2 linked regions of the Homo sapiens genome follow. The protein of the gene in region 1 purifies or fractionates together with the protein of each later gene. This does not show direct contact. Each region holds a gene or a part of one and is shown in the gene's direction. Other genes may lie near its edges.

Region 1 (3,500 bases):
CTTGGTATATTGTCCAAGCTTGTCTTGAACTCCTGGACTCAAGCAATCTTCCCAACTCAGCCTCCCAAAGTGCTGAGATAACAGGCGGGAGCCACCATGCAGGCCTAAAGTTGGTTTTTAGGAGCCATACGCTGAGGTTTCCGTGGTGGCCACCGTAAGTCCATGTCTCCTCTCCACCCAGGGCCTTCACCGCCCTGTGCTACTCTGCAGACGGCCACAGCATCCTGGCGGGAGGCATGTCCAAGTTCGTGTGCATCTACCACGTCCGTGAGCAGATTCTCATGAAGAGGTTCGAGATCTCTTGCAACCTGTCTTTGGACGCCATGGAGGTGAGCCGCCAGCGCGGGGCCGGATGGATGTTGCTTCCAATGCAGGTGGAATGCGTCGGGCTCCTGCGTTCTGCACTCCTGGCTCCATGGGGCCTTGGGCACAGTTGTGGTGCTTGTCCTGTATCTAAGTGCACGGGCCCCTCACCTGCCCCAGCAGAGTCCGGCCGTGAAGCCAGCACCTGCCTCAGCTGTGTGTGGAGCCACGGTCCCCAACCCTTTTGGCATTTGGGACCGGTTTCGTGGAAGGCAATTTTTCCACAGACAGGGTTGGGGGGATTGATTTTGGGATGAAACTGTTTCACCTCAGATCAAGATCACCAGGCATTAGATTCTCAGAAGGAGGGTGCAACCTAGATCCCTCACGTGTCGTTCACAATAGGGTTCGCACTCCTGTGAGAATCTAATGCTGCCACTGATCTGTCAGGAGGCGGAGCTCAGGTGGTGATGCGAGCAATGGGGAGCGGCTGTAAATTCAGATGAAGCTTCACTCATTCACCTGCCCACCACTCACCTCCTGCCGTGCAGCCTGTTTCCTAACAGACCATGGGCCAGTACCAGGGGTTGGGAACCACTGCTGTGGATGACCCTGCCGAGGCTGGTTGCTAGGAGGCTGGAGCTGTGAGGGGCAGTGCCCAGCACACGCTGGCTCAGGAGACACGGACATCTGTCAGGGAAGGAGTGAACGAAGAGGGTGCTGGTAGGCCCTGCCCGATGGCTTCCTGCCCGGGGTCCTGTGTACAAGGCTCTGCCTTCACTGTCCCCACTGGTGCCTGCCCTTCCCCCTCAGCACAGCCCTCGGCTCAGGTCCCACTCACATGCTGGCTCCTGCAGGACCTCAGAATGAGAGTGAGGAAGCCCTGGTAGCCTCTAAGCAGGGGTGTGGCTGCTGGGTTCACCTGTCCACGCCCCATCGGGGCAGAAGCCCACTGTCCCCTAAATGTTTCTGGGGGAAAGTGTCCTTGGCATTTTCACAAGGGAGTAGACGGCCATCCTCGCTGTGAGCCCCAGCCTTTGTGATGGTGGCAGCAATGCCAGCATGTAGACCTCAGTCCATCCCCCTCCGCAGCCTCCGCACCTGCCCTGCTCCACAGCTTCCACACCCACCCTGTCTGCAGCTAGCTCTGCAGGAAGAGTCCCTGGGGCACTGCAGGGCTCTCTCCCCGTCCTTGTTCTAGACAGGGCTGAGGCTTGTCTGGTGTTGGGGTCAAAGAGCAAGGGTAGGAGACGAGGGCCAGGCGGCCAGGCCATCAGAAGCAAGGCGTCCACTGCTTTTGCTGTTCTAGGAATTTTTGAACCGAAGAAAAATGACAGAGTTTGGCAACCTGGCACTAATTGATCAGGATGCTGGGCAGGAGGATGGAGTCGCGATACCACTGCCAGGCGTCAGGAAAGGTGAGCAGAGGTTCCTCCCGCATCTGCCCACCACTCACCGGTCCTGGGTGACCACGCATTCATGCCCCTGGTTGGGGCTGCAGTGTGTGGAAATAACAGTTACTACATGGTGACATTTGCTGGACACTGGGGGTGTCAAAGGCCCAGTGGGTTGGTGCTGGTGCCGTCAGCCCCTGGGCAGGAGAAGCTGCCCATGTGTTGCTACACGTGGCCTCCCTGCCCTGGCGGGACCCGTCCATTTGCTCTTGGGACTGGGTGCCCCGTCTGCTGCACAGCACACGGAGCATTCTGGCGTGAGGCCATGTGCGCCGCACAGAGAGCCAGGTGCTCTAGAAGATCTGGGTCCCAGGTAGACCATCCTGATGGGACACTCGCCAGCCAGAAACCCTGAGTGCTTCCATATGCAGGCCCAGGGTACCGTGTTGAGCACAGCAGACCCACTCCTGGGCTGGGCTGGGGCCCTTTTCTGGGTTGGACACACAGTCTGCTGGCCGGGCTGGCTTTTTTGAGCATCTGCCCCATGGGCTGGGCCATCTGTTTGGCAGCTCACCCGGAACAGCCTCCGCGGCCCCAGCACGGGCCCACCTGCCGCAGCTGCAGCGAGGGAAGGGCTGCTTCTGCCTCCGCTTTGTGCAGGACCCAATGAGTAGAGGCTGCTGCTCTTGATGGGGCTCCCACAGCACCCCCCAGCCAGCCGGGAGACCGCAGGATGACTTGCTTCGTGGGGAGAGCAGCCTGGATATGCTGTCCAGTGATCATTAACGGTTCTTTTTTCCCCAGGTGACATGAGTTCTCGGCACTTCAAACCTGAGATCAGGGTGACCTCACTCCGCTTCTCTCCCACTGGTGAGCACTGAGCCATGGGCTTTTGGTGCCGGTGGGCACTGGGGCATCTGTGCCATAGCAAGGCTGGCCACCATGGAGCTGTCTGCAGGCTCTGGGCTGTGCCCTGTGCCCCTGGGTAAGAACATGGCCCTGCAAACCCTGCAGGCCACAAGATGGCTGTTGTCCCTGAGGATGGATGGCTGTCACGGTGCCAACCTCAGATGCACTGAGCTTTGAAACATGGCAGGCCTGGTATGCCCTTGCTCTAGCAGCTCCCCGAGTGCCCTGGACGTGCTGCCTGGGGGCGGCTCTGCCATCACGGAGAGCCCGTCTCCTGCGCACTGCCCCCATCCTCTCGCAGTGGGGAGGAGGGTCTGTGCCACAGGCCTGTGGAGCCTGGCGGTGCACATGGTCCCCACACAGAGGAGCCAGGAGCAGGGCTATTGGCAAGCGTGCTCCAGCCTAGACTGAGTGTCAGAGCCAGGGGCAGAGAGGCCCATGTGAGCCAGGGGTCTGTGCCCTCGGGCCCAAGGGCCAAATCTGGCTGGCCACCTGCTTTGGTCACTGATGTTTTACTGGGACATTTTACTGGGCGTTTTTTTGTTGGCGGATCCTTCTGGCTGTCTCTAGTGATCCGTGCAGCACTGAGTAGGTGCAGCAGAGACCACAGGGCCTGCGGAGCTGAAGACGCCTGAGCTAGACAGAAGACTTGGCTGGCTCCCGGCGTCAAGAGAGGAGGACGCATGCGTGTACATATTTGCTTATATGTGCATCCCTGGGAGAGTAACTTCTGGGATGATCCATTCATTCCTTCCCAGGGGAGTAGTGGGGTGGGGGCTAGAGGCAGACGTCCCGGTTCCTCCTGATTTTTGCACTTTGTCCCAGGGGAATGTACTTAATACTGTTTCTTTAAAAAAAAAAAAAAAGAAAAAAAATGTTGGGAGGAATGAGCTT
Region 2 (3,500 bases), on another chromosome or scaffold:
GCTCATGTAATCCTCCTACCTCAGCCTCCCAGGGTAGCTGGGACTACAGGCACTTGCCACCATGCTGGGCTAATTTTTTTTTTTTTCTGTCACCCGGGCTGGAGTGCAGTGGCATGATCATGACTCACTGCAGCCTCAGCCTGCTGGGCTCAAGCGATCCTCCTGCCTCTGCCTCAGCCTCCCAAGTAGCTGAGACTATAAGTGTGCACTACCACGCCTGGCTAATTTTTGTATTTTTTGTTTTGCTATGTTTCCCAGGCTGGTATTGAACTCCCAAGCTCAAGCAATCTTCCTGCCTCTGCCTCCCAAAGTGCCGGGATTACAGGCATCAACTACCTTGCCCAGCCATGGACATATTTTATACCTACCACTGGCTTCTGTGGTTGAAAGGAACACATGTCAGCTTGTCAAGGAGGGAGGCCCGGTTCTTTCAAGACTAAGACTCATGTGGCTTTGCAGAGCTAGACAGGGGTTAGGACCCTCAGCAGCTGCAGTTCCTGAGTCTCCTCACTGGTGCTCCAGCATCAGTGTGACTCCAGTGCATGACCTTTTAATTCTTTATTGCAGTGATTCCCAGACTTGTAAATTATTCAGATTTCTGAGACATCCCCTCTTGACTCGGTAGTTTGGGGTGTGGCTCAGGAAGCTGCATGCTTAAAAGCACTCCAGGTGAGTCTTAGGTGGGTGAAGACGTTGCCTTTACTCTGCTTTTCCTTTCTATATTCCAGGGGTCAACAAACTTTTTCTATGAAGGGCCAGAGAGTAAATATTTTAGTATTTGTGGGACAGATAAGTCTCTGTCAACATATTTTTAAAAATCCTTTAAAATGCAAAAAGCTGGCTGGGCACAGTGGCTCACGCCTGTAATCCCAGCACTTTGGGATGCCGAGGAGCGCGGATCACCTGAGGTCAGGAGTTCAAGACCAGCCTGACCAACATGGTGAAACCCCATCTCTACTAAAAATACCAAAAATTAGCCGAGTATGGTGGCACATGCCTGTAATCTCAGCTACTAGGGAGGCTGAGGCAGAAGAATCGCTTGAACCCAGGAGGTAGAGGTTGTAGTGAGCCAAGATCGCACCACTGCACTCCAGCCTGGGTGACAGAGCAAGTCTCCATCTCAAAAAGAAAAAAGAAAGGCAAAAAGCTGCTGGCCAGGTGTGGTGGCTCATGCCTGTAATCCTAGCATTTTGGGAGGCCGATGTGGGAGAATTGCCTGAGACCAGGAGTTTGAGACCAACCCAGGCAATGTAGAGAGACCCTCATCTCTAAAAAAAAAAAAAAAAAAAAAAAAATTAAAAATGAGTCAAGTGTGGTGGCACACCCCTGTAGTCTCAGCTACTTGGGAAGCTGAGGTAGGAGGATCACTTGAGCCCAGGAGGTCAAGGCTGCAATGAGCCTTGAATGCACTACTGCACTCCAGCCTGGGCAAGAGCGTGAGACCCCGTCTCAAATAAAATAAAATAATGTGAAAGCTATTCTCAACTCCCTGGATTTGCCAACTCCTTCTCTACCCCACGGCTTCTGCTCACCCTGACTTTGGTTCACTTAGGTCTTTTCAAGGCTTCTGTCTTTCTCTACCTCAGTTTCAACTTTTCCTGCTGACTTCTTGAGTCCCTCATGAGGTCCCCAACTGACTCCCATTACCTGTCATCCAGCTAGTTCTTGTTTGGGCTTGTTGATTGAGGCTCCCTCCTGTCAGCCTGTGGAATGCTGAGAGGAGGGGTCACTGCCTTCATCAAATGGTGCCCCAGCCTGCCCCTAGCAAGAGTGGAATACATCCCGCTTCATCAGGGGCGGGGGCTGTGTGGGGACCCAGTGCCAGCTCAAAGGTCAGACCGCAACTAATTACGAAGGATGCTGGTTCCCTGGGCACTGAGTGGAGAGATGAGGCACAGGACATGGGATGCTCAAGCTGGAGGGGCTGTCAGAGCTTCCAAAGCTGAGTCCTCTTCCCCAGGGGAACTTGCCTGAGATCCTCCAGCAATCAGAGGCAGACATGGGACCAGAGCCCAGGTCTTGGACTCTTGGTGTGGAGTTCTCCTGACCAGTCCACGCTGCCTTCTTGCATTTATACACAGCTGCATTTCCACTGTGCACATCTGCCCTGTTTCCCACAATGCACCAACCTGGGCAGATGAGAAGCATCAGAAGGCATGTCACCTCTGACATTCCCACGCAGAGATTCTCCCCTAGAGTAGATGATAATAGATTCTGAAAGCAAGGCAGAACGTTCCTGGATATCTAGCCCACATGCTCACCAACAGGGGAAGGGACTAAGACCAGATCACCAGAGGGGAGTGACTGGCCCAGGCCATGTCACAGAGAGACACAGTGTGCCGGGCATCACGCTAGGCCTTTTTGTGTTGTTGTCAATGCTGTACTGTCCTCCCAGACACAGCAGCTGCTGGAAAGGCTGTCAGCTGACAGCTCTCAGCTGTTATCTCTCTTTGGGACTTGTCTCACCTGGGGAGAGCTGTTTCACCCTTCCCAGGGAAGCCAGTATGCAAACACTCACACCAGGCTAGTTGAGGTGACTCAGACCTATAATACCAGTGCTTTGGGAGGCCAGGTGGAAAGATCATCTGAGGCCAGGAGTTTGAGATCAGCTTGGGCAACATAGCAAGATCCCATCTCTACAAAAAAATTTAAACAATTGTCTGAGCATGATTGTGTGCACCTGTAGTCTCAACTGCTCAGGAGGCTGAGGTGGGAGGATTGCTTGAGCTTAGGGGTTTGAGGTCACAGTGAGCTATGATGGCACCAGTGCACTCCAGCAACAGAGCAAGACTCAGTCTCAAAAAAAAAAAAAAGAAAGAAAAAGACTCACTCTAACTTGGAACAACTGTGAAGGGTCTTCCAGCTCCAGAACTTCTTGGAGGCTGAGGCTTTGTGATAGCTGCAAAATGCCTCCCTCTGCCCCAGTCCTGCTTCCTTCTCTTCCCAAGAGCTCTCTCTAATAAACTTCCTGCATGTCAATCCCTGAGTCAGAGTGTATTTCCCAGAGGCACACTCTGTGACACAGCTGTTATGTCATTTATCCTCACCACAACTCTGAGAACTAGTAGTACTATCCTCAGTTTACAGGAGCTGAGGCTCAGAGAGGTTCGCTGAATTGCCCAATATCACACAGCACATGAGTGGTGGAGCCAGGATGCAAATCCAAATCCTACTGCCTCCAAATCTCACACTCTTTCCACTCTCTTGGACCAGTTCTCTTGACCACCCTTGTCCTTTGTTTTAGGGGCAAGTTTGACCCCCAGGACATGGACAAGAACTTGAATGCCATCCAGACAGTGTCAGGGATCCTGCAGGGCCCCTTTGACCTGGGCAACCAGCTGCTGGGACTGAAAGGTGTGATGGAGATGATGGTGGCACTATGTGGCTCAGAGCGCGAGACGGACCAGCTGGTGGCCGTGGAGGCCCTCATCCATGCCTCCACGAAGCTCAGCCGCGCCACCTTCATCATCACCAATGGAGTGTCACTGCTCAAACAGATC

Evidence for each region. Proteins that work in one complex are often made in the same cells at the same time.
Region 2: the proteins of PWP2 (region 1) and UNC45B purify together in Homo sapiens (affinity purification with mass spectrometry; one large-scale study listed by BioGRID and IntAct). This does not show direct contact.

What each region holds. Positions count from the first base shown.
Region 1 is NC_000021.9:44,124,399-44,127,898, forward strand, and holds part of PWP2 (periodic tryptophan protein 2 homolog), read left to right. Parts: intron 1-181; coding exon 182-329; intron 330-1,612; coding exon 1,613-1,721; intron 1,722-2,501; coding exon 2,502-2,567; intron 2,568-3,500. UniProt on the Homo sapiens protein: Part of the small subunit (SSU) processome, first precursor of the small eukaryotic ribosomal subunit.
Region 2 is NC_000017.11:35,164,817-35,168,316, forward strand, and holds part of UNC45B (protein unc-45 homolog B), read left to right. Parts: intron 1-3,244; coding exon 3,245-3,500. UniProt on the Homo sapiens protein: Acts as a co-chaperone for HSP90 and is required for proper folding of the myosin motor domain. Plays a role in sarcomere formation during muscle cell development. Is necessary for normal early lens development.